2 linked regions of the Homo sapiens genome follow. The protein of the gene in region 2 interacts with the protein of the main gene of each other region in a biochemical or structural test. Each region holds a gene or a part of one and is shown on either strand. Other genes may lie near its edges. The genes, in order: NFE2L1 and MAFF.

Region 1 (7,300 bases), on a different chromosome or scaffold from region 2:
TAGCTTCATCTAACAGACCCCCCAAAGGGTCAGGCAGCTCTGGGCCTGCTGTGTCATTGGCTGTGCCATTGAGCTGGGGTGGAAAGAAGAGCCCTGTCAGGTTGGTGGAGCCGAAGGTGGAGTTGAGGCTGGTAGAATTGCTGGGGGCCAACGGGAGCAGCGTGGAGCTACTGGCCACAGGCAGGCTTTCCACCTCGGGGCTGAAGAGTAAGAAGTCCTGGCTGCAGCCCCCCAGGGACGCCTGATGCAGGCTGACATTCTGATTGATGGGAGTGTTGGGGGCAAGGCTGTAGTTGGTGCTCAGTGGGTCTCCAGGAGGGGCACTGTACAGGATTTCACTTGCTGATGTGTTCACTTCCATGGCCTGGGAGGGGAGAAGAGCACCACTGTTCACTAGGAACTGACTCCCTCCCCTGGGGCTCACACACTGCAGGCACCCAACAGAGGCACAGCTGCATGGGTGTAAAGGCAAAATACTATAAACCAAAGCCCACAGTGTCAGCTCCTGACCCAGCTTCGTCCACCAGGCCTGGCAGAGATGGGTTCTTCCATGTAGGCTCCACCCTAATATAGGACTGATCAGCTTTTCCTCATGTTTGGCCAGACTCCCCCATCTTGGAGGGAGAGGAAGAAAACACTACCTTGTTACTGCAAAATCAGCACAGTGAAAAGAACACCCAGACTTAAGTCAGAAAACCTAGCTGCACCACTTGCTGTGTGACGATGGGCACATCATTTAACCTCTGAGCTTCAATTTCCTCACCTTTGAGATAAAGGCTGACTAGATGACTGTGAGGGCCAAGTGAGCGAACGATGGCTGTGAAGCACCATGTGAATGTCAGCTATTATTAACGCACAACCTTGGAAGCATTCAGCCAAGTGCCTATCTGCCTGAAGGAAAGGAAGAAGGCACACCCAGGAGGCAGGCCCTGATTTGGAAGGCTGAGTCCTGAGTTTTATTTAACCCAAACCCTACCTGTCTCCAGCTCCCATTGCCCCAAGGACACACCTGGACAGGTTTCTTCTCATTGTCCCCACTTCTCTATGATTCAGGGAAAGTATTACACTTTCTCTCCTTGGAGATGGAAAAGCAACTGAGTGCTAAGACAATCTGTGCAAAATCCAATAGGTTTGTGCCCGGTTCCGACAATCCTACCTGCATTTCCATGATGGACATGAGATCTTGCCACTGCTGTTCCAAATCAAATGGTGACTCTGTCCCGGTCAGAAGAGGAGACAAGAGGTTGTTTTGAAGAGCAGGGGGCTCACTCTCACTAGGCACTGCTTCTGTTATGCTGGAAATGTCTGCTGGAAACTAGGGCAAAACACAGAGGCTTTAACAAGGGGGAAGGAAAAACCTTGTGCTTTCCTCCCAGAGATTACCACCTGGACCTGTTTCTGTTCTTCCTTCCTCTGCATTTACCCCCAGCAGCCAGAATAAGGCCAGAACCAACAGCTGGCCCCTCAGCCATGGAGGGACACACCAGGTACAGGCTGCCCTGCTCACTTGGTGGACTCTCACTGGAGTCCTGCTCACCTCAGCATTCTCCCCAAAGGGGCAGGTGGCTTCCAGCAGCCTAAGGCACTCTTCCAGGGACAGGGCCGTCTGGTCCTCCCCACTAGGCACCTGTGGCAACAGGAACTGTAAGTCTGATTGACCTGGGCCTTGGCTGCCTGGGGCTGAAGCTTCTTTCCCAGAATGGCTGAAGCCCTGCAGTCTCCCTCCCATTCCCAGGCTAATGGCTGGCCCCGAGTCCCAAACTCCCAGAAACAACAGAAGAGAGTGAAAGAGTCCTGAAGCAAGCAGGAAGATGCTACATGCTCTGCCTCCCTTGCACTGTCTGTTGCCACGGCCTGGCCATTCTGCATCTGCTGCTTTCCACTCCCCCCTTCCAAGGCTCAGCCACTGTGACTTACAGACCCCAACCCAAAACAGAAATTCAGGTCCACCCCACACACCACCTGTCTTCTCTAAAGGAAGTTTCTGGAAGAACTCCAGCCTGGTTTGTGTCAGGGTAGTAGGGACAAGAAGAGAGCCCAGTGAGCAGGGGCGATGGTACCTGTGCAGGGAAGCTCTCCCCAGTCTCTCCATCCACTAGCAGGTTCCGTGCCAGAGCTTCCGCGCCCTCGCCTGCCCAGGTGTCCTGCTCGCCTCCATCTCGCAGCTCCTTCTCCACATCCTGCTCCTTCTGGCGGTGACTATAGTCAAAAACCTCACGCCCAGCCCCCAGATCAATATCCTGTCGCCAAAGGATGTCAATCAGATCTATGTCCTGAAAGACAGATCACATGACTTTAGCTCTAAGATCCCAAGGTCCCTTCCTTGTCCTGCCCCTCAGAGTTCCCTCCTAGTGTCACCCCAGTTAGTCCTGGGTGGGGCCCCTCCCAGCTCTTCACCTGCCAGCCTTTACCCCCTGGTCCCTGCACCAGCAAGTGTTCATTCATCTACTTCCAGACACTATCCCCTTCCCACAAAAAAAAAGAGCCACTAGCAAAACCATTAGTGTGACTATCACCATAAGGGTGCAAAGGATTAGGATCTGGACCAAGACACACCCAGACAAAAGGCAGGGCCGCCTCCCCCCTACATAAGAAAGAAGGGGAACATCAGGAGACACCTCTAGCTTTGGGGATTGGACCCCTTAAAACTTGGTTTGGAGGAAGCTGGCCATGGCAAGCAAGAGCGAATTGTCATGCAGAATTACTTAGCAGTGGCCAGGCTTGCATCAGCCTGTGGTACCATTTCATTTGCATAAAGGGGTGGGGTGGGCTAGAGAGGAAAATCCCTGCATTTCCAACCACCTGATGCAACCAATGACAACGCCATGCTGTCTCCAGCCCTTCCTATAGCCATTCCCCATTCCCCAGCTGGCAGCAAGAGTAAGGCTGAACACCCACAACTCCTCAAGCCCAGGCTCACCTCAAGACTCATCCCCGCCAGAATTCCCTCTCAGCTGATCCTAGCTGCTGCCTCCATTCCAGGGAGGCTCAGGCAGTCAGATGATCCCCAGGGGTGCACCCCACCCCCTGCTCGGGCCAGCCTCACTGTGTCCCCTACACCAGTGCTCTCATTCCCTCACCATACCCCAGGACTCACCAAATCCCCATCAGTCAACCCCCTCAAGGACATAAACCCCATCACTGCTCAGCTACAACTGCCACCTTGGGCACCAAAAATGCTTCCCTCCCGCTCTACCCTGGTGGCTCGTGAACAGTTGCTGCACCAACTGCCACCCCCACTAACAGCATATAACCCCAATAAATAGAGCTATTTGGGCTTCCTATACATGGCACCCCCCTGTAGTCGAGCCCTCCCTACAAGCCTGAAGAAACCCTAAAGTGTTGCCTTCCATCCAGGGGTTAAAATGCAGACATACACTTTCCAGAAAGCAATTTCCTTAGATCAGACCCTCCTCCCTACCTCTAAGTCGGTATTCTTCTCCCATTAACCCCCCCTGACCCTAAGACCTCCCAGACGTACTACTTTAGTCTCCCCACATACACCAACCTGAACAGAAGCCCTGGACCCAGGAGCAGAGGCGGGCTGGGCCACCCGGTGACCAGCCAGCAAAGAGTTAAGGGGCCGGCTGCCTTTGGCATGGCCCCCACCACTGTGAGAGCTGCGGTCCAGGCGGGTCATGGTCTGCGAGATGAGCCCCAGGGCAGCCGGTGCCGGGAAGCCGGACAGGGGGCTGCAAGGAGCTCTTGGCTTTCAGGGAGCACACCAGGCTGGAAGGGTGGCCCCTTGCTAGCTCCGAGGGGCCTGAGGAGGGTGCCCCGCCCGTGCTGCTGCCTGGGCGGCCCAGCCAGCCCCCTTCCTCCATCCTTGAGCAGCCCCCTCCCACCTCACAACCCCAGTTCCACTCAGGCGCCCAGCTGCCCCCACCCTGAGCTCACCGCAGAGGCTGCAGTGAGATGGGACTCCCACCCCATGCTCCGTGCTCAAGCTGCAGAGGAAAGCAAGCTCCCTCCTGGGCCTATCCTCCCGCTCCTCCCCCCCACGCCCCCCAAACTTGTTACCTAGGCTGCAGCAGGGAGCCAATCCCCACCCCCTCCCACCCCGCAGGTCACTGCTGAGGCTGCAGAGAGCCAATCCCCTCCCCCAGGTCAGCAGCTGGGCTGCGCAAAGAGCCAATCCCCTCCCACTGTCGTTACCTAGGCTGCGCCGAGAGCCAATCTCCTCCCCCAAGTCTCCGCTGGAGATGCGGAAGGAGCCAATCCCCTCCCACCGCCTGTTACCTAGCTGCAGACGGGAGCCAATCTCTGCATCAGGGCAGCTGGAGAAGCTGCCGCAAGGAACCAGCCCATCCCTGGGCCGCCTCCGTCTCCTTGAGGAGATGCGCCCAGGGGCGGGCAGCCCCACCCAGCCCAGTCAGTCAGCTGGGGTGGCGCAGTGAGAGCCCTGGGGGAAGGGGTGCCACTCTCCTCCCTCCTGTCGCATCTTGCTCATCCAGCCCACTCAGGACTGGGCAGACACTTCTCCCGCAGATTCTCTGGGAATCTAAATTATTTGCTGGAAGTGGAAAGAGTTATCCCATTCCTCAGGAAGGCAGTGGCCAGTTCTCAAGGCCAGGGATCACGAGCCAGGCTGGGCAGGAACCCAGGGCACCCAGGCCCACCATAAGCCGTAAGTTTTGTCACCCCAAAATAGGCCAGACTAGAGAAAAGGGGAAGGCCATTTTGCCCACGTGCAGCAATGTCACAGTGCTGGCCAAGCCTAGCCCCAAGCAAGAGGAGGGGAGACACAACCCTGAAGCCCCATACTTAGGGAGACAGGTGCTCTGCATTCTCCTGGCCACAAATGTCCCCCCTCCCCTTTCACCCCGGCTTTATTCAAGAGCATTCTCTGCCTGATTCCTGGCCCATATCTCATCCAAGCAGGAAAGAAGCCCCTCACAGACTCAGTATCACAATTCAGACTCCCTGGATTGGTTTCTCGAGGGGAAATTTAGCTCCCTCCCCACTGCTGCTCCCCTGGAGCCTAAGGTCAGGTCAGAGAGACAGTATGTTCTCTCTGGTCACAGTCAGCTCCTAGCCTGGAAAGAGCTGTAAACAGGCCACCCCCCTGCTCTGGGCAGAATGCCAATCTCAAGGGGAATCCTATCCCTGACAACAGCCTAGGCTATGGCTGTCCATAGAGCAGGCCTGGCAGCGGGGGAGTACTGCCACCCCAGGGATAATACCGGTTCCAGCAGTGCCTGTCACATGCTCTGGACCTGGGTATTTTTATCCCTGAGTTGCTGAGGAAATGTTGTTCTAGACACATAATAATCCTCCCTTCCCCCATACCCAGCCTGGGCCCCTAATGCTGACCCACCCCACCTCCCAAAGGGAGTTATAAAGGCCTGAGATGAGGAAAAGCACAACCTTCACGAGGGCCAAGAAACAGAGGAAAGCAGGGTCAAAGTCCCATCCCATTCGGCCCCAACCCACCCAATAATATCCAAAATATCCCATCCCATCCCAGCAGGAACAGATATGCAGCTACCCTGCAGGGTTTCCAGGAGCAAACCCAGTTACACCCACCCCTGGGGGAGCTACCCTGGGGGAGGAGCATAGAGCAGAGACTGGGAAGCACACTTCAGAACACTGTGCCAAGATTAGAGCCCACTTGAAGGAAAGGGGAAGCAGAAGAGAGGTGAAGTTCCAAGTGGCCCTGTAAGAAGCTAAATTAACAGGCCCTGAAAGGTAAGAAATGTTCCTGGCTCCTGCGCTCAGATAATCCTAGTCTCTCTCAAAGCAGGTCCAGTATGAGCCATTTGAGCACAGAGCCGAGTGTCTCAATCCCTGCACTACTGACACTTGGGGTCAGACAAATCTGTTGTTTGAAGGTGTTCTGTGCCATTCAAGATGTTAACCAGCATCCTTGGCCCCTACCCACTAGGTGCCAGTAGCAACCCCGCCCCAAGATGTGACAACCAAAACTGTTTCACGATATTGCCACCTGCACCCTCGGGGACAAAATCACCCCCAGTTGAGGACCACTGGCCTAGAACAAGCCATACTCTTTGACAGTCACTAACAGTCAGAGAACTAAGCTCAGGAAAAGACTACAGAGCAGGGAAGGAGGGAAAACGTGGTCTGACCTGGCAGGCAGAGAAGCCCATTTCTGTAACATCTGTAAAACTTTTTACATTCCTTCACATGCCACCTCCAAAAACCCAATCGGGCTTTCTCCTTCCCTAATGGCCAGGGGAGTGCAGTGGGCCTCTTTCCCGGCTACTTAAGGCTGGATGGCAAGCGAGAGCCATACAAACCCAGAGCTCAAAGCAATCTTATGTTGGTGAGGCAGGGGCAGCAGCAGCCATTCACATCTTGAAAGGCAAAGAACTGCATCGCTTTCTGCCCAGAACAGTATGTCAGCCATGTGACAAGAGCTAAGGATCTCTTCTGACAGCTCAAAGCAAGTTGACTTGGGCAGCAGAATGCAGTTTCTCTTTCTAGCTCCCAGACTTCTCTTCCCTACTCCCTGCAGTGGGCCTTTTGCAAAGATTGGAAGCCTTGGCCCTCTCCTGGCCAAGAATAACTATCCAAATCTACCCTTTGGCTCAGGCCCAGGAGGTCTGAATTATCAGGACAATACAACAACAGGCCTCGCCACAAAGGAGAACTTCAGGGTATGTCTGTGTTCTGATGTGGGGGGAGGTACAAAACAAGAGTCCAAAAAGTATTTGTGTCTTAGCAACAGATGTACACTGCATCAAAGCCCATCACAACATGACTCCTCCCCCACCCCAGGCCTCCAGCAGTCACGCTGAAATCCAAGCAGTAAACACCCTGGCATGTGTAGGAACCTCCCACTGCCCTGACAGTACATTTAGAGGTAGGTCAATGGTTCAACACAGGGAAATGCTCCCAGCCCCCAATCCTAAAGTCAGAAAGTTCAGCCCATCCCTACCCAAGAACAGTGCCTGAGGCCCTGCTGAAACCTGTCTGGCTCTTTACAGGGCTCAGTGTTCTGACCACAATCCTTTGGGACCAGCCCACCCCCAAGCCCCAGGCCCCACACACCCACCACAGGTCCACTAACCTCTTTGGTTAAGTCTCCACTGACTGGGGGGGCTACAGCCCCCAAATCCTCCAAATCTTCACCGAATCCCTGCTCCGTTTCGCTTTCTCGCACCCCGTTGTCTGGGCCTGTCACATCTTGGAGGCCACTGGAACTCTCGAGGGCGAGGCCTGAGTTGGGCTGACTGCCAGAGACAGACCCCTCTGGGTCTCGGTGAACCAGCCAGGCATTTACCTCAGTGGTTGGCACCTGGAACCTGTCCAGGGCCCTCACCTGACTGAGGAGCCGCCG
Region 2 (12,626 bases):
GGCCACCTGAGCTACACAGAAAGACCCAATGGGAGAAGGGAAGCCTCTCCCCACGCAAGTTAATCAACTGCCCTTTGGGTGTTGCGGCTGATACAGAACCTCAGAGGCACAGTCTGGCCTCATGCACAAGTCATTTTTCCTGAGTCCTGGATTCCTTGCTAAGTGGGAATAATCACAATAATCTTGGTGTGTAAAATATAAAGGCTTAGGCAAGGCCAGGCGTGGTGGCTCACGCCTGTAATCCCAGCACTTTGGGAGGCCAAGGTGGGCAGATCATCTGAGGCCAGGAGTTCAAGAACGGCCTGGCCAACATGGTGAAATCCTGTCTCTACTAAAGAAAAAAAAAAATGCAAAAATTAGCCAGGTGTGGTGGCGCACACCTATAGTCCCAGCTACTTGGGAGGCTGAGGCAGAAGAATTGCATGAACCCGGGAGGTGGAGGTTTCAGTGAGCTGAGAACAAGCCACTGGACTCCAGCCTGGGCAACAGAGCGAGACTCCATCAAAAAAAAAAAAAAAAAAAAAGGAGGCATAGGCAAGAAAGATCACCTCATCTCACCATCATCCCACTATCCACAAGCAACAGAGACATCACTAACCACACACAGCACCAATTCCCAGTGAGGCAGGCCACAGCCCCTGAGTCTTTCTCAGCACAGAACTGTTTTCTCCTGAGCTTGGACACAGCCTAGAATCCTCAACACTGCCTCCAGACCAGGCCTGAGAGATGGAACCATCAGCCATTCCCTATCCTTGATAATAGCGGAAGCTGGCTGTGATTGTAAATACCCTCAGGTGCTAGGAAGGTTTTGAACCTGCTCTTCCCCCACTCCTCCATGCCCTCCTGTCCGAGCCTCAGCCCCCTCAACCGCATCCTGGATGTCAGCTGAGGCACCCACGTTTGCCCAGGAATGTCCTAGCTCAGCAGTCAGGCAATCACAGGGGGAAAGTCACAAGAAGGGGGAACTTTCTGGTAACCTCAGGCTTTCCGCTGCCAACCCCAGGCCAGGGGCTGCCAAGGGGCCTGGGTCCTCTGCCTTTGCCAGGCTGGCTGACCCTGGGCCTGAGAAATAGTAGCTGATCCGATCCCCTGTTCAGCACCTGAGGCAACCAAGCCACTGTTTGGTAGCCGTGGCGGACTGGAACCCAGGGGTCCTCTGTCTTCTATGTCGGCCACCACCACCTCTCCCTGGCTTCTTCCCTTGGAAGCCAGCAGAGCTGACCTCCAGGGTCTGCAGGTTCATGACGTCTTCTGGAGGCATAAGGAGAGAGGTGACTCTTGAGGGACTGACAACTGCCTTGTCCAGTCAGCAGCCACAACCCTCCAACGTCCCCCTCCCTGGCCCCACCAGTCCACTCCAGAGACATCCTGTAGAAGGCCCACCCGCTGGCATGGGCTCCTTTCTGGCTGCTGAGCCATTCTGCTCGCTCTGTGAGGACAGGGAAAAAATGTGTTTTCCTAGCTCTTGGCAGTCAGCACTGCTGGAGCCTCCTCCCTGCTGGAAGGGGAGCAAGGCTGGAAGAACCAAGCACCACAGAGAAGCAACGGCCTGGGGTTCCAGCCCCAGTTCAGGTACCCTCTCACACTCGCTGTGTGGCCTCAGGTACGGCACTCCCTCTCTCTGGGCCTCAGTTTTCCCACTATGCCAAACGTCCTCCGAGCCTAAGGTACCTTCCAACAATGACTGTCTCTGAGTTTAGAGTTTCAGATTCTGGCCCAGAGCTCCAAGACCACCAGCAGAATGGAGGTAGGGAAAGGAAAGCGGTGAAGGCTTCCTGGAGGTGGGGGCATGAGACACAAACTATCAGACTATCAGACTAGCCCTCTTCTCCACCTGCACAGCCACAGACCACTTCCTCCTTCATCTGGACCATGACCACAACCGCCTGCTCACCAGCCTCTTGCCTTGCCCTCCGTCTCCAATCCCCATCATTGATCCTCCCCCAAGAGCTGTCAGAGGAATCACTACTGACACAAACCCACGAGCCTGTCCGTGCTTGGCCCATTTCAAAACCCTGCAATGCCAGCCTCCCCGCAAGCCAACACAGTAGGGTCCTCAGGCCTCAACCGTATTCCTGTCCACTCTCTCCCAGGATCGTATGCTAACAGATGAATGAACAGACAGCAAATTCTACTATCCCTGAATGTTTCCCAAAGGGACAAGCGGGCAGTGCATGCCTGTGTGTGTGAGGGAGGAAGTTGCCTGAGTCCTGAAGGATTTGCTCGCTTTTGGGAGACTGCTTCAAGATTCCCCCAGCCCCTGCCCTGGCTTCCTGTTTCTCTGGGGTTCCCAGGCCTTTTTCTCCATGTGTTGTGGAGCTCTTAGAGGGCAGGGATCCAGGGCTCATTCATTCAATCAGCAAACATCCAAGAAGCACCTACTATGTTCCAGGCTCTGTGCTGGGCCCTGGAGACCCTGAAGTGAATCACAGCTCCTGCCTTCAAGGGCTTCACAGACAACCACCACTCTATCAGACTCAGCACACTAGTCACCTCCCCAGGGAAGCCTTCCTTGATTGCCCTGGCTAAGTCAGAGCGCTGTTATGTACTTTCAAACCACAGTGACTTCTCCCTCACATCACCCATCTAAGCTGTGTTTTGCATTTACTTCTGTGGATCTTTTTTCAAGTTTGTGTCCGCTGCTGAGCTATAAGCTCCCAGAGGGCAGTCTCTGGATCTGGTCTGTTCATCTCATCCCTGGCATCTGGTCCAGGACAAGGGCCCAATGGCAATGCAGGGCCCAGGGGTGATTCAATGGGAAGTTAAACTTCTCAGTGCTAACTTTCCATCTGGGACTGAGTCAACCAGCCACTTCCCCTCATCCCCTGACCCCAGGCCCTACTTTGTAATGTTTCCTGCCCAGCTTTGAGGGTGGGCCTGTCTGGTTCCTGTGCTCCTGGCCCCAACCCTCCTGACTCAAACCCCACCTACTCTTGGGTACCCCCAGCTCCTGGCATGGGGCTGTCAGCCCTGCTTTCTCTTCCACAATTCACCTGGAAAATACGCTGTCTGCACAGACTTCCAGAGCTTCCCCCTTCTACCCACCATCCTGCCATCCTGGCTGTTACCTAGTTCCCAGTGGTAGATGGGAATACTGAGGGTCCGGGCTGCTGTAGCAGAGCTCACCCAGGGTTCAAAGATCCAAAGTCAAAAGATCATTGGTTCCTCACCCTAGCAAGTTCAATTGCTCCCCTCCCACAATTCCATAGACCGTGGGTGGGTGGGTGGAGGGGGAAGGTGGATTAAGACCAAGGAATCTCTAGCCCCCAGCCCATCCTGCAGGCGGCTACGACAAACAGGTGCTTTCTGCAGGGCTATTGGGTGAGTGGGTGGGTGGCGGCTAGGTCAGGCCCCACCCCTCACTCATTAACCCTCCGTGCAGTCAGAGTTCTATCCCCAATGCCTACTGACCCTGCCTGGCCCAGGGTGAGGGCACTCGGGGTCTGTCGGCTGGCTCAGAGCCTCAGCTAGCTTCCGGCGTCCAGCTGTAGGTCAGTCTAGTCTCACCAGTCCCACTTGTGAACTGAAACTACCAGGAGAGCGGAAACCGGCTCCGCCCCATCCTCCACGACCTAGCAGGTACAGCCTCCAGAACCCGGACTAGCTAAAAGCCTGTGGTCCTCTCCCTGCGCCGCACCCTTGCAGTCAAGGTTTTCTGGCCCTTCCTGTTCTCATGGGACTGAGGGGATGGGCAACCCTGGGGACGAACGAGAGTCCCTTGGTTCTTCCCTCCCCAGGAAGCCCCAAAATCTGGGGACAAGAACCTGGGCTCCAACTCACTTTGTTACCAGATCCACCGGGGTGCCAAGCGGGGGTGGCTCACATCCCTCACTCCTAGCTCAGCTGGGTGGGGTCTTTGATACCTTGCCCCACCCTGTGGCTGCGGGCGCGGGCTCTGGGCGGGAGACAAACACTGGGGTCACGTGGCGGAGGCCCTGGGAAACTCCGGGGAGAGCCGGGGACGGACAGCCCCGGGTAGTAGGACTGGGGCGGCCCGGGCCAGAATTCCCAGACCCCGTGCGAAGACGCACGGGTCCGCTTCCTTCGCTCGGGTCCTTGTTCCGCGTTTACTCCGGTGGCCGGCCCAGGGCACGCCCTCTCCGAGGTACACACTGCTGGTGTACAGGCCCCAGGGAGCGCGCGCGCGGACACGCACACACAAGCACAACACACGCACACACGCCCCCGAGGTACACAGCGCACGCACGCACCGGGCAGGATACCCAGGCCGCCCGCCAGGGAACACACGCCCGCCCTCGGACGTAAACAAACCGCGCACGCACCGCCCGCGGGCGCCGGGCCAGGGCCTGTTCCCACCGAGTCACGTAGGAGCACAGCGCCCCCGCCCCCGCCGGGCGGACGCGGAGATCGCCGGCCTGCGCTGCCCCTTCCTCCCGGCGCCGCCGCCTACCCGCCCGCGCCCCGGGAAGGGGCCCCGTCTCCACCCCCACTCCCCCGAGCTGGCCTCGGCCCCGTCCTCGGCGTCCCCGGGACGGCCGCTCCCTTCTCCCCGCCCCGAGCCGTCCGGGCGATGGAGCTCCGGGAGCCCCGACGGATCGGGCCCGGGCGCCCACCCCAGGCGCATCCCGGGACGCAGAAACCCTGCCGCCTTGGGGTCCCGCGCACCGTCCTCCTGGTCCCGCGTTCCTCACCCGCTTCTGGGCCCGCTTGGTCCGGCGCGCTCACACACGCGCGTCTCGCCGCTGTCCCGGCCGCTGTCCCGATCCGCGCTCCGGTCAGTCTCCCCTCCGCTCTGAGCCGCAGGTCGCTCTGAACCGGGCGCCCGGGAGCGCTGCGCTGAGTTTTGTTGTGGGGCGGGCGGCGCAGGGGGCCGAGGCCGCGCGGAGTTGTAAGGCGAGCTTCCCGGAATTACTCACTCACAGGATTCCTTTCATTCATAAAAACCCAGTCATGCGGTGACGTCACCGACCCGGCCGCCCTCCGGCCAGGAGCGGCCGCTTGGTCCCTCGGCCCCGCCCCCGTATGACCCCGCCCCCTGGAAGCCCCGCCCCCGGGGCTGCCGCGATTCTCTGCCTGGTTCCAGGGCTCGCTGGGTGCGTTCACGTGACACCTCGCGAGAGCCCCGTGGGTGTAGGTGTCATTGGCTCATTTTACAGGTAGTGGTCCTGGCCCTCTTCTTTCGACCTAGACCTTCTGCCTTAATGATCTCATCCAGTCCCGTGGCTTTAAATGACATTTATATGGCTATGAGCCCCAGGTTTGTATTTCCGGAGCGAACAGCTTCTCTGAGTTCCAGACTCATAGCCAGCTGCCCACTCTGCGCATCCAGTGGGTGTCAGATGGGCACTGCAGAGGACTCGGCCCAAAAACCCGCTCCTGATCGTCAGCCCTACCTCTGCTCCCTTGCCACCCCATCTCAGCTGCTCAAGCCAAAACCTTGGAGCCTGGCTCCATCCCTCCCTCTCCCTTCCTCCCCACCTCAGGACTCAAGCTAGCGGTGTCTCCAGGTCTCCTGCATAGGACCATTTCTCACCACCTCCAGTCATGGCACCTGGTCTCGGCACCATCAGCTTACCCGGACAATGGCAGCAGCCTCCGAGGCTCCCTACTTTGCCTCCAAAGTCTTTCTTTCTATACCAGCCAATGTTCTTCTCAAAACAAAGCTCAGGTTGTTTACACACCTTCTTTGGCCACTCTCTCCTCATCCACTGCTCTTCGGCCACAGTGCCCTTCTTTCTGTCCCCCAAACATACCAAGCTCATTCCTGCGACAGGCCCTTGGCACTGGCTGTCTGGTCTTCTGTTCACTTGCCTGACTCTTTCTCATCTTTCACGTCAGCCCGGATGTCACTGCCTCAGAGAGACATTTCCTGACCACCCTGGTTAAAGCAGTCTTCACCTCTGAATTTTTTTTTTTTTTTCGAGACAGGGTCTCACTCTGTCACCCAGGCTGGAGTGCAGTGGCACAATCTCGGCTCACTGCAACCTCCTTCTCCTGGACTCCAGCCATTCTCCCACCTTAGCCTCCCAAGTAGCTGGGACCATAAGCACACACCACCATGCTAGGTTCATTTTTTGTATTTTTTTTTTTTTTTTTTTTTTTTTTTTTTTGTAGAGACAGGGTTTTGCCATGTTGCCCAAACTGGTCTCAAACTCCTGGACTCAGGCAATCCACCCACGCTGGCCTCCCAAAGTAATGGGATTACAGGCGCAAGCCACCGCACCCAGCCTTGAAATTTGTTCTTATATTATCTTAATACTTCTGTAGGGTGTTTCATCATTTATGTATGTGAGTGCTGGTTATTGTCTGTCTTCCCCAACCAGAATGTATGTTTTATGAAGGCAGGCCTTGCTTCTTTTTCTTTTTCTTTTTTTTTTTTTGAGACAGAGTCTCACTCTGTTGCCCAGGCTGGAGTGCAGTGGCATAATCTTGGCTCACTGCAACCTCCGCCTCCCAGGTTCAAGGAATTCAGCCCCCCAGTAGCTGGACTACAGGTGAGTCACCATGCCCAGCCAGGCTGGTTTTGAACCCCTGACCTCAGGCCACCCACCTCGGCCTCCCAAAGTGTTGGGATTGCAGACATGAGCCACTGCGCCTGGCCAGGCTTATCTTGTTCACCACTGCCTGCCCAGTGCCTGGAGTAGTGCTTGGCACATAGTAGGCCCACAGTAAATACATGTTGAAGGAATACATGACTGGAGGCTCAGAGAGGTGAAGGTGACTTTCTAAATTCACTCAGCTAGGAAGTACAAGCACTGGAATTGGTATCCAGGTCTGAATGATTCCTGGCCCAGATGTTTGGGGGTACATCGCAACCAGGGGAGGAGGGCCACATAAACATGAGGGGTGTGCGCCGTGGTGGGAAGCCCCACCCAAAAGAGATGGCTTTGGAGGCCACGTGCGGGGTGGATGTTGCTGTTCATCCCCTGCTTTCCTTTGCTCATGATGTTCCCACTGCCTGAAATTCCATCGCTCCCACAGTCCCTCCTGTGAAGCCGACATCATGGCACTTACTCCACTGTGGAGGGCATAGGGCCTCTCCAAATGGGTAGGCCTCTATGTGGCACCCTGATCACCAGTAAGGATCCCCACTTTCCTTTTTTTTTTTTTTTTTTTGAGCCGGAGTCTCGCTGTGTTGCCCCAGGCTGGAGTGCAGTGGCGCGATCTCAGCTCACTGCAAGCTCCACCTCCCGGGTTCACGCCATTCTCCAGCCTCAGCCTCCCGAGTAGCTGGGACTACAGGCGCCCGCCACCGCGCCCTCCTAATTTTTTTTTTTTGTATTTTTAGTAGAGACGGGGTTTCACCGTGGTGTCGATCTCCTGACCTCGTGATCCACCCGCCTCGGCCTCCCAAAGTGCTGGGATTACACGCGTGAGCCACCGCGCCCAGCCCCCCACTTTCCTTGATGTAGCAAATTCGATTTCAGCGCCCTTGTCTTGCTTTCCTGCCTCTGTGCCTTGGTCCACCAGACACTATGGCTTCTTTCCGTTCCCTCCCACAGGCTGTGGGTTTGGTATGCAAATTGGCCCACTAGTTTCCCAAGTGACCAAATGTTGAGGCAGCTTTGTCTAGCACTCAAAAGGATCTCTAAAAACCAATTGCTCAGTCCTCTCCATGTGCATAGCAGAAAGAGCCACCTAGGTTAACCTTTGGGGTAGGAAAGTTCTCAGTTTTAGAAACTGCACAATGGTGAGTTGTCTATTTTCTCTACCCCCCACCCCCTTTAAAACCAAAACCAAAACAAAACAAAACAGGGTCTTGCCCTGTTGCCCAGGCTGGAGTGCAGTGGCATGATCATAGCTCACTGCAGCCTTGAACTTCTGGGCTCAAGCGATCCTCTCACCTCAGCCTCCCGAGTAGTTGGGACTACAAGTGTGCATCACTGTGCCTGGATAATTTTTCTATTTTTTGCAGAGATGGAGGTCTCACCATATTGCATAGGTTGATCTTGAACCCTTGGCCTCAAGCCTTCCTTCTGCCTCAGCCTCCCAATCTACTCCCTTTTTTATGAGCTTCTCAAGAGCTGGGGCCACACCTGGAACACTGTAGGTGCTCAGCTAGTGAGTGAATTCTCAGTGGACCTGAACAACACTCCTGGACACCATGCTGCCTAGATCCTTTACTCCCATCCCCAGCCTGCCAGAACAAGGGGGTCAGTGCCTCATTATCCACCCTGCAGGGACTGCTTCCCATAGACATAGCTCCCTTTCTGGTCAAGATCAAGGGCCATGGTGCAATGTCCTATTTAAAAGTGGGAGCTCAGGCTGGGCATGGTGGCTCGCACCTGTATTCTCAGCACTTTGGGAGACCGAGGCAGGAGGATCACTTGAGCCCGGAGTTTGAGACCAGCCTGGGCAATATGGCGAAATCTTGTCTCTATTAAAAAAAGAAGAGGAAGAAAAAAAAAAAAGAAATGACCATCAGGCAGCCACCATAGTAATCATGGGTTGCAGCAAGAATCACCAATGGATATGAAAGCTTGATGAGAAAGTATTTACATAGTTTCAAGTTATTTACCCACAAGATGATAATTAATTATGGAAGGAAAAATAATAACTCTGCAGTGGAGAAATTTGGCAGACACAACCTTCGCTAAGTGATCAAAGTTAATATCACCAGTAAGGGGCAAATTGCCACGGAGTTTGTAGATGAGGTAATTACTGCATGGATGCCCAACTTCCTGGCTTCAATGCTTGTCCTGTGGTCATAGAAGAGAATGTGTCCTTGATTTTAGGAAATATACACTGGAGTATTTATTTATTTATTTATTTATTTATTTTTTTGAGATGGAGTCTTGCTCTGTCACCCAGGCTGGAGTGCAATGGTGCGACCTTGGCTCACTGCAACCTCTGCCTCCTGGGTTCAAGTGATTCTCCTGCCTCAGCCTCCTGAGTAGCTGGGATTACAGGCACCCACCATCATGCCCGGCTAAATTTTGTATTTTTGTAGAGACGGGGGTTTCACCATGTTGGCCAGGCTAGTCTTGAACTCCTGACCTCAGGTCATCTGTCTGCCTCGGCCTCCTGAAGAGCTGGGATTACAGGTGTGAGCCACCGTGCCTGGCCCACTAGAGTATTTAGAGGTAAAAGGCATCATGTTTGCAATTTACTCTGACATGGTTCTGAAAATAATACATATAGATAGATAGTGTTATGGGTGGAATTTCATAATGTTAAAATGTGTATGTTGAAGTCCTAATGCCTAAAAATCTCAGAATGTGACTGTATTTGGAGATAAAGTTTTAAAAGGCATAAGTAAATTAAAATATATACGGTAGGCCCTAATCCAATCTGACCAGTGTCCTTATAAGAAAAGAAAATTTGGCCAGGCGCAGTGTAATCCCAGCACGTTGGGACGCCAAGGCAGGCAGATCACTTGAGGTCAGGAGTTTGAGACCAGCCTGGCCAACATGCAAAACCCTGTCTCTACTTAATTAAAAAAAAAAAAATTAGTCGGGAGTTGTGGCACATGCCTATAATCCTAGCTACTCAGGAGGCTGAGGCAGGAGAATTGCTTGAACCTGGGAGGCAGAGGTTGCAGTGAGCCGAGATCACGCCATTGCACTCCAGCCTGGGCGACAGAGCGAGACTGTCTCAAAAAAAAAATTGTTTTTTGAAAGTAGGGACTCTCAAGTCAGCCTGTCGGGTTCAGATCCTGGCCCCACGCCTCATCAGCTGACGTCATCTCCACCCTCTATAAACCGGGCTAATAGTGCCTCCTTTGCAGGCTGTGAAACAACATAATGTGTTTGCACTTATAAGCCTCTGGCACAGCGCTTAGTATATAATAAAAGATCAATAATATCAGGTTAGAGAGAGGAGTCCTCTACAGCAGGGGTCCCCAAATCGCAGGCTGAGGACCAGTACTGTTTGTCCGTGGCCTGTTAGGAACCAGCGGGCTGAGTGAGCGTCACCGCCTGAGCTCCGCCTCCTGTAGGATCAGCACTGGCATTGGAGTCTCATTAGGAGCGTGAACCCTATTGTGAACTGCGCTTTTGAGGGATCCAGGTTGTGTGCTCCTTGTGAGAATCTAACTACGGCCAGATATGCCTGATGACCTGAGGTGGAACAGTTTCTTTTTTTTTTTTTTTTTTTGGAGAGAGTCTCGCTCTATCCCCCAGGCTGGAGTGCAGTGTAGCCATCTTGGCTCACTGCAACCTCCGCCTTTTGGGTTCAACTGATTCTCCCACCTCAGCCTCCCCCAAGTAGCTGGGACTACAGGCACGCGCCACCACGCCCATCTAATTTTTGTATTTTTAGTAGAGACGGGGTTTCACCATGTTGGCCAGGCTGGTCTCAAACTCCTGACCTCAGGTGATCTGCCCCGCTCAGCCTCCCAAAGTGCTGGGATTACAGGCGTGAGCCACCGCGCCTGGCCACTGGAACAGTTTCATCCCGAAACCATCCCCCACCCACACTCCCCACTCTCCACCCCCACCCCACCCTCATCTGTGGAAAAGTTGTCTTCTACGAAATGGTCCCTGGTGTCAAAAGCAGAGGAAATGGACAGAGTGATCAGTTCGCCCAGAGGCCAAGGGACCACACCCTGGATGCCAGGTGTGGTGCTCCCGTGTATCAGGTCACACTCAATCCTCTCCATGTCTTAGCACTTAGCTATTATCATGGCCATGTTGCAGATGAGGAAATCGAGACCGTGGCAGGTGAGGAATCTTGCCCAGTATTGCACAGCTAGTCCCTGGCAGAGAAGGACTTAAACTCAGGCTGGTCCGACTCGAGGGCTGCGCTCTCTCCTGCTGCCCCCGCCGGAATGATTTGCTGGGTTTTGTTCTGGAGAGATTCGATATTTCACGTGGGCCACTTCAGAGTCTGACGATAATTAGAGCACACGCCATTTCTCCGCGTGGGCACCCCCGGGTGGGATCCTGGAGGAACCTTGTGCCCTCCTCCCCTTCTTCCTCCTCTTCCCTTCCCTCTACTTTGTCAATCCTAAGGCAAACCGGGCAGGGCCTGGCAGAGGGTGACTCTTGACCAGGGCCACTTTCTGCAAATACAAGGGTCCTGAGTCTGGGCTGGAGATGTGATTGTTCAGCAGAGAGAAAAAAGGTTTGAGCAAACCCAAACAATTGGGCCGGGCGCAGTGGCTCATGCCTGTAATCCCAGCATGTTGGGAGGCCAAGGTGGATCACTTGAGGCCAGGAGTTCGAGACCAGCCTGGCCAACATGGTGAAACTCTCGTCTCTACTAAAAAATACAACAATTAGCCCAGTGTGGTGGCATGCGCCTGTAGCCCCAGCTACTCCGGAGGTTAAGGCAGGAGAATCGCTTGAACCCAGGAGGCGGAGGTTGCAGTGAGCTGAGATCTCACCACTGCACTCCAGCCTGGGCGACAGAGCAAGACTGTCTCAAAAAATAAAAATAAAAATAAATCCAAGCAACCCCAGTACCTACTGTTACTGTTTTTGTTTTGAGACGGAGTCTTGCTCTGTCACCCAGGCTGGAGGGCAGTGGCCCGATCTCGGCTCACTGCAAGCTCCACCTCCCGGGTTCCCGCCATTCTCCTGCCTCAGCCTCCCAAGTAGCTGGGACTACAGGCGTATTATTGCTTATGAATCACATTTATGTGCCTAAGAGCTGTCATCTCACAAAATTCTATGAAGTATCTGTATCATCCCCACTTTATAGATGAGGAAACCGAGGCTAGGAGGGCTGAAGCCATTTGCTAAGGGCCCTTCCCACCCACATGTGAATATGAACCTTTCGTCTCCACTTCACCAACACTGGGAGTTTTCATTGTCTAAGCTCTGCTAATTTCCTAGGCAAATGACGTTATTGTATTTAAATTTGCATTTCTCTGAATAGGAATGAGCTTGAACACATTCCCATTTGCTTGTTAACCAGTTGGGTTTTTTCTTCTTTTGTTCGTGTGCTTTGCCTATTTTAGAGAATACATTTTTATGTTTGCAAACTGATATTTTAGGAACCTGAAACAGTACTGCACATGCTCCATTTTTCCCCAGCCCTCCATCATTTTCCCTCTAAAACCTCCCCCCCCTCCCCACCCCCAGCAGCTTCAATATACCTGGAGATGTGCCAGCCCTGGTCTGAGTCCTTTTGTGCCAAGCCTGTAAAACCATCGCTGGGGCACTGCTGCTCCGTGCACTTCACTCCTGCATGCCAGCTGCTCTGGCTTCTGGAGAGAAGCCACCATCGCGACCACAACCACCACTGCAACAACAGCTGCGGTCACGACAAGGTCATCTTCTCCAGTCACAGCCAGATCCTCAGAGCTGCCAGGAATCCCTGGAGTACTCGCCTTTCTCCTTCATCCGCAGGCCTTCATCCTCATCTCCATCGAACCTGCTCTCCTGCCACTTCCAGAGGAAGCAGAGGCCATGTGATAGGCACTGCCTCGACCCTCTGCACCTGCCCTTCCCTCTCCCTCCCAGTCCCTTCAGAGGCTGTCCTTTGTCTTGCCCTAAACCTACCTCTCCTCCTTCCAGAATCCCCATGCCCACACCCCAGTCCCCATCCCCTCCCTCTGAAGCAAATGGCTTCAGCCCTCCTAGCCTCGGTTTCCTCATCTATAAAGTGGGGGTGATACAGATACTTCATAGAATTTTGGGAGATGACAGCTCTTAGGCACATCAACGAGATTCATAAACAATAATAACAGTAGGTACTGGGGTCGTCTGGATTTTTTTTTT

The links.
Region 1: the proteins of MAFF (region 2) and NFE2L1 form a complex in vitro, tested with the Homo sapiens proteins (one study listed by BioGRID).

The regions. Positions count from the first base shown.
Region 1 is NC_000017.11:48,051,359-48,058,658, reverse strand, and holds part of NFE2L1 (endoplasmic reticulum membrane sensor NFE2L1), read right to left. Parts: coding exon 7,031-7,300; intron 2,274-7,030; coding exon 2,061-2,273; intron 1,628-2,060; coding exon 1,538-1,627; intron 1,316-1,537; coding exon 1,157-1,315; intron 365-1,156; coding exon 1-364.
Region 2 is NC_000022.11:38,194,239-38,206,864, reverse strand, and holds the start of MAFF (transcription factor MafF), read right to left. Parts: upstream 4,872-12,626; 5' UTR 4,653-4,871; exon of another isoform or gene 4,627-4,652; intron 3,846-4,626; exon of another isoform or gene 3,781-3,845; intron 1-3,780. UniProt on the Homo sapiens protein: Since they lack a putative transactivation domain, the small Mafs behave as transcriptional repressors when they dimerize among themselves.